Regions from separate parts of the Homo sapiens genome. Here region 2 is reported to be linked to region 1. Evidence: microRNA targets listed by miRTarBase, many of them from high-throughput screens and not tested one by one. Region 1 holds a microRNA gene; the other region holds the end of a gene's coding sequence.

Region 1 (3,000 bases):
GCCACCCGCTCCTACTGACCCGCACCCTCTGCGCAGGAGCCGCGCTGTGTTCCTGGAGCTCACGCGCTACAGCCCGGCCGTGGGGCTGCACGCCGCCGTCACGCTGCGCCTCGAGTTCCCGGCGGCCGGCCGCGCCCTGGCCGCCCTCAGCGTCCGCCCCTTTGCGCTGCGCCGCCTCAGCGCGGGCCTCTCGCTGCCTCTGCTCACCTCGGTACGCCCGTCCCCGGCCAGACCCCGCGCCTCCCACCGGCAGCGTCCCGCCCCCTCGCGGGGCCCCGCCCCGGCAGCGTCTCACCCCTCGCAGCGCCCCGCCCCCTCGCAGCGTCCCGCCCCCTCGCAGGGCCCCGCCCCGGCAGCGTCCCGCCCCCTCGTAGGGCCCCGCCCCGGCAGCGTCCCGCCCCCTCGCAGGGCCCCGCCCCGGCAGCGTCCCTCCCGCCCTCCTGACCGCGCCCCCCACAGGTGTGCCTGCTGCTGTTCGCCGTGCACTTCGCCGTGGCCGAGGCCCGTACTTGGCACAGGGAAGGGCGCTGGCGCGTGCTGCGGCTCGGAGCCTGGGCGCGGTGGCTGCTGGTGGCGCTGACGGCGGCCACGGCACTGGTACGCCTCGCCCAGCTGGGTGCCGCTGACCGCCAGTGGACCCGTTTCGTGCGCGGCCGCCCGCGCCGCTTCACTAGCTTCGACCAGGTGGCGCAGCTGAGCTCCGCAGCCCGTGGCCTGGCGGCCTCGCTGCTCTTCCTGCTTTTGGTCAAGGTGAGGGCTGGGCCGGTGGGCGCGGGGCTGGGCGCACACCCCAGGGCTGCAAGCAGACAGATTTCTCGTCCGCAGGCTGCCCAGCAGCTACGCTTCGTGCGCCAGTGGTCCGTCTTTGGCAAGACATTATGCCGAGCTCTGCCAGAGCTCCTGGGGGTCACCTTGGGCCTGGTGGTGCTCGGGGTAGCCTACGCCCAGCTGGCCATCCTGGTAGGTGACTGCGCGGCCGGGGAGGGCGTCTTAGCTCAGCTCAGCTCAGCTGTACGCCCTCACTGGTGTCGCCTTCCCCGCAGCTCGTGTCTTCCTGTGTGGACTCCCTCTGGAGCGTGGCCCAGGCCCTGTTGGTGCTGTGCCCTGGGACTGGGCTCTCTACCCTGTGTCCTGCCGAGTCCTGGCACCTGTCACCCCTGCTGTGTGTGGGGCTCTGGGCACTGCGGCTGTGGGGCGCCCTACGGCTGGGGGCTGTTATTCTCCGCTGGCGCTACCACGCCTTGCGTGGAGAGCTGTACCGGCCGGCCTGGGAGCCCCAGGACTACGAGATGGTGGAGTTGTTCCTGCGCAGGCTGCGCCTCTGGATGGGCCTCAGCAAGGTCAAGGAGGTGGGTACGGCCCAGTGGGGGGGAGAGGGACACGCCCTGGGCTCTGCCCAGGGTGCAGCCGGACTGACTGAGCCCCTGTGCCGCCCCCAGTTCCGCCACAAAGTCCGCTTTGAAGGGATGGAGCCGCTGCCCTCTCGCTCCTCCAGGGGCTCCAAGGTATCCCCGGATGTGCCCCCACCCAGCGCTGGCTCCGATGCCTCGCACCCCTCCACCTCCTCCAGCCAGCTGGATGGGCTGAGCGTGAGCCTGGGCCGGCTGGGGACAAGGTGTGAGCCTGAGCCCTCCCGCCTCCAAGCCGTGTTCGAGGCCCTGCTCACCCAGTTTGACCGACTCAACCAGGCCACAGAGGACGTCTACCAGCTGGAGCAGCAGCTGCACAGCCTGCAAGGCCGCAGGAGCAGCCGGGCGCCCGCCGGATCTTCCCGTGGCCCATCCCCGGGCCTGCGGCCAGCACTGCCCAGCCGCCTTGCCCGGGCCAGTCGGGGTGTGGACCTGGCCACTGGCCCCAGCAGGACACCCCTTCGGGCCAAGAACAAGGTCCACCCCAGCAGCACTTAGTCCTCCTTCCTGGCGGGGGTGGGCCGTGGAGTCGGAGTGGACACCGCTCAGTATTACTTTCTGCCGCTGTCAAGGCCGAGGGCCAGGCAGAATGGCTGCACGTAGGTTCCCCAGAGAGCAGGCAGGGGCATCTGTCTGTCTGTGGGCTTCAGCACTTTAAAGAGGCTGTGTGGCCAACCAGGACCCAGGGTCCCCTCCCCAGCTCCCTTGGGAAGGACACAGCAGTATTGGACGGTTTCTAGCCTCTGAGATGCTAATTTATTTCCCCGAGTCCTCAGGTACAGCGGGCTGTGCCCGGCCCCACCCCCTGGGCAGATGTCCCCCACTGCTAAGGCTGCTGGCTTCAGGGAGGGTTAGCCTGCACCGCCGCCACCCTGCCCCTAAGTTATTACCTCTCCAGTTCCTACCGTACTCCCTGCACCGTCTCACTGTGTGTCTCGTGTCAGTAATTTATATGGTGTTAAAATGTGTATATTTTTGTATGTCACTATTTTCACTAGGGCTGAGGGGCCTGCGCCCAGAGCTGGCCTCCCCCAACACCTGCTGCGCTTGGTAGGTGTGGTGGCGTTATGGCAGCCCGGCTGCTGCTTGGATGCGAGCTTGGCCTTGGGCCGGTGCTGGGGGCACAGCTGTCTGCCAGGCACTCTCATCACCCCAGAGGCCTTGTCATCCTCCCTTGCCCCAGGCCAGGTAGCAAGAGAGCAGCGCCCAGGCCTGCTGGCATCAGGTCTGGGCAAGTAGCAGGACTAGGCATGTCAGAGGACCCCAGGGTGGTTAGAGGAAAAGACTCCTCCTGGGGGCTGGCTCCCAGGGTGGAGGAAGGTGACTGTGTGTGTGTGTGTGTGCGCGCGCGCACGCGCGAGTGTGCTGTATGGCCCAGGCAGCCTCAAGGCCCTCGGAGCTGGCTGTGCCTGCTTCTGTGTACCACTTCTGTGGGCATGGCCGCTTCTAGAGCCTCGACACCCCCCCAACCCCCGCACCAAGCAGACAAAGTCAATAAAAGAGCTGTCTGACTGCAATCTGTGCCTCTATGTCTGTGCACTGGGGTCAGGACTTTATTTATTTCACTGACAGGCAATACCGTCCAAGGCCA
Region 2 (3,148 bases), not on the chromosome of region 1:
GACTATGCCCGACAAGCAGAAGAGGCCTATGGTGCCTCCCACTACCCAGCTGCCAACCCCTCTGTAATCGTTTGCTGCTCCTCTTCCGAAAATGATAGCGGTGTGCCCTGCAATAGTTTATATCCTGAACACAGGTCCAATCACCCTCAAGTGGAATTTCACTCATACTTGAAAGGCCCCTCCCAAGAAGGGTTTGTCTCTGCATTGAATGGTGACAGTCACATTTCAGAGCATCCTGCTGAAAATTCTTTGAGCCTTGCAGAAAAGAGCATATTGCATGAAGAGTGCATCAAATCACCCGTGGTTGAGACAGTCCCTGTTTAGTAGCTTAAATTATTCTAGGACCAACTCTTCTCTTATTTAAGGCACTGTATTTAATTGGATTTCCTGGGCTCATCATTGTTTAAACTGAAGACCAAGAAAACTTGGACGGTGGTTAATCTTCCAGACTGTATTTTGTTTTTTCCTTTCTAGCCACATGACTGTGGCATTGCACAAATACAGTCTCTGTAGGGATTTTAAAAGATTTCAGACTGTTTTGATAGAAAAAGCTAAATTTTAAAATGCATATCTCACAGTTGCCTACCTGTCAAACTGTGTGAAACCTGCCAATCTGTGTAGATCAGAGCTCCAAATTTTGGATTATCGGGCCTGTGCAAGATTGTTAACTAAGGCTGGGAAATAATAAGATTTAGAGTCCTAATTTTCAATATATCTGAAGATAATGATGACTTTTTAATGTAAAAGTAATTATTGTAAGAAAAAGATTTAATTGTTCCATGTGTATTTTATTTATGGTAGTTTAGAAGACATGTTTTGATGAAAATGAACAGCCGCATGTTCATTCAAGCTGAAGATGCATAGCTAGTTCCACAGAGCATGCCCACATGGATTGCATCTGGAATCCATTCACATTTTTATGATCATGACTGATCAGATTTGCAAATTCTTAAGGGTGAAATAGGCCTATTTTTGCTATTTTGGACAAATAAATGATTCTATATGTGCAGGTCCTTACACAGTTTTCTCTAAAGTTAAGAGTTAGGACAATCCTCTGGGGAGAGTCTAGTTCACTGCCCTCCCTCAGCTGACTCCAGAGATGGAGGTAGAAGGAATTGCCTTTCTTTTTTAAACAGCATCATCTTGATTCTTAGCTTGGACAGCACCTTTAAGCTCTACCCCCTACATCAAAATGCACTTTAGTGCCCCTTCACGGTACCTCGTGTGGGGTGGGGACTGAGAACTCTTTGAGATGAAAAAATTTAAAAAAAAATTAAAAAGATCTTTAACTATTATAAGGTTCATATAATTAATATAGAGGAATCATCCAATGATACTTATGAAGGGAAAATGACCTATTTTCCTTCACCACTCTGAGGACCTAACTCAGTAAATGCAGAGGAGGCTGAGGAAACATGGAAGAGACACGACCTCAGCAACCAGCCTTTTCTCCAGCGTGATCAATCCATCTCTACAAAATCAGTGTATAATGAGATTTCCACTTAGTGACTAGCTGATTGAAGGGGGGCCTCTACCCAAATACTCAACTAGGCCTTTCTTTTCTGAAGCATTTTGATTTGTCTTGCCTGGGACAACTAGCAGAACAGTCCAGAATGCATTGCATACTTTCTAATTACCTCACATTCTCTTATTAAAGAGAACAGATAGAAATAAAACATGCACTCCCCACCTTTAGATTACCTGCACTTGGTTCGTCGGAGGACTTCTAGGATCCCGTTTCCCTGTAAATTAATTTAGGTAACTAAATAGTGTAATTCTGCCTTTTTTTTTCCAATGCAATATGACTATGCTAAACCTGTTTCATATTTTTGACCTTCTATTGTTATATCACTTCACATGTTTTATAACTATTTGAAATGCGGACATGACTTGCTATTCAGTGACTGCATCGCTACTTATTTTTTATGTCTTTTAGACTTGGGTGTTTAGAATTATGGATATAAATATATTGTAGATCTCAATTTCTAAAAAAAATATTTTATTTAATTGAACTTAAAAATGCTTGATCTAGAGAAAGTCCTCCAGTGGAAAAGTTTCTACTAAACTTTGTTTTGGGGAAAAAATGTTTACTTGGCAGCTCTTCCACTGTGCAGTTGGTTTCTGCCCCTTCTCTTCCCCCCTACATTGGGCCAAATTTATAACTCTTAATATTAACATTAAAAGAGCTTTGGGTTTGTCTTTATGTAGGTTGCAGTAATGAGAGCAGGGTTGTTCCTTTTGAATGATTGGCCCTTTGGGCTAATCAGAATGAGGATTTGTTGAAATCTCAAATATACATATATATATATATATATATATATATATATATATACACACACACACACACATACACATATATATACACATATATGTATGTGTGTGTGTGTGTGTGTGTGTGTGTATATATATATATCCCATGTTGTCTGCAAAGTGACAGTTTTTAGTGCTTAATCTCCAAAATTTTCCCCCTACTGATACAATCTAAAGAGCACAGGCCCAAAGAGAAAATGACAAGAGGCTATTGTTCCTTCATTCAAGCACATGAAAGGATCATGTGTACTGTATTTGCTGGACCATTACAAGCTCTTGAAGGATCTGCTTGTGAAGTACTCTGAGGTTATTCTTGGAACACAGAGTGTGGGAGAGTGGGGAAGAGCCAGCTCCAGCCTGAGCAAAGCTGAAGGGTAGAATGACAGTCCAGTTTCTGAAAAGAGATATTTTAATTTTAGTTCAGCTTTATTTTCCTAAGACGATATGAAGCCTACTTTTTTATTTTTGGCTAGGTCTTTGTTTTCTAGCTTTGTTTCCAAAAGGATGCTTAAGAAAACAGAGTTTTTTTCCCCTATCCATTTATCTAGGGTAGAAAGTCACTGCCCTGTGAGAAGAATTACCCTTCCAATCATGACAGCTTCTATTCCAACTTTTCATATACCTGACTAACCTGTAAACATATCCCACAAACCACATACACAGGCTACCTATTAAAACTCTCCCATATACCTAACACATACACATGCACACACATACAAAATATATACATATCACACACTTAGAGAATGACAGATTTCAGGCAATGGCCAATAGTCAGTATTGAGTTTTTCTAACCCCAGAATCTGGTTGGGCTTTATGATCTAAAAAAATGTGGTTT

The links. Region 1 holds the annotated microRNA hsa-miR-1225-3p (UGAGCCCCUGUGCCGCCCCCAG, at 1,418-1,439, shown strand). A microRNA usually pairs through its seed, bases 2 to 8, with sites in the 3' UTR of a target mRNA and lowers its output. Matches are read on the target gene's strand: a 7mer-m8 pairs with bases 2 to 8, a 7mer-A1 pairs with bases 2 to 7 and ends in A, and an 8mer does both.
Region 2: the mRNA of CSRNP3 is a reported target of hsa-miR-1225-3p. Seed matches in the 3' UTR shown: 7mer-A1 at 390-396.

What each region holds. Positions count from the first base shown.
Region 1 is chr16:2,088,634-2,091,633 of GRCh38, reverse strand. It overlaps MIR1225 (microRNA 1225), which reads left to right and starts at 1,350; the gene lies at 1,350-1,439. TSC2 (TSC complex subunit 2) reads right to left here. Exons shown (of 42, transcript NM_000548.5): 42 at 2,143-3,000. It overlaps PKD1 (polycystin 1, transient receptor potential channel interacting), which reads left to right. Exons shown (of 46, transcript NM_001009944.3): 42 at 37-211; 43 at 460-750; 44 at 826-960; 45 at 1,044-1,349; 46 at 1,440-2,926. The coding sequence ends at 1,907. PKD1-AS1 (PKD1 antisense RNA 1) reads right to left here and starts at 198. Exons shown (of 3, transcript NR_135175.1): 1 at 20-198.
Region 2 is chr2:165,679,430-165,682,577 of GRCh38, forward strand. It overlaps CSRNP3 (cysteine and serine rich nuclear protein 3), which reads left to right. Exons shown (of 7, transcript NM_001172173.2): 7 at 1-3,148. The coding sequence ends at 324. Among named protein-coding and RNA genes, the nearest start is that of GALNT3, 110 kb to the right of the region's middle.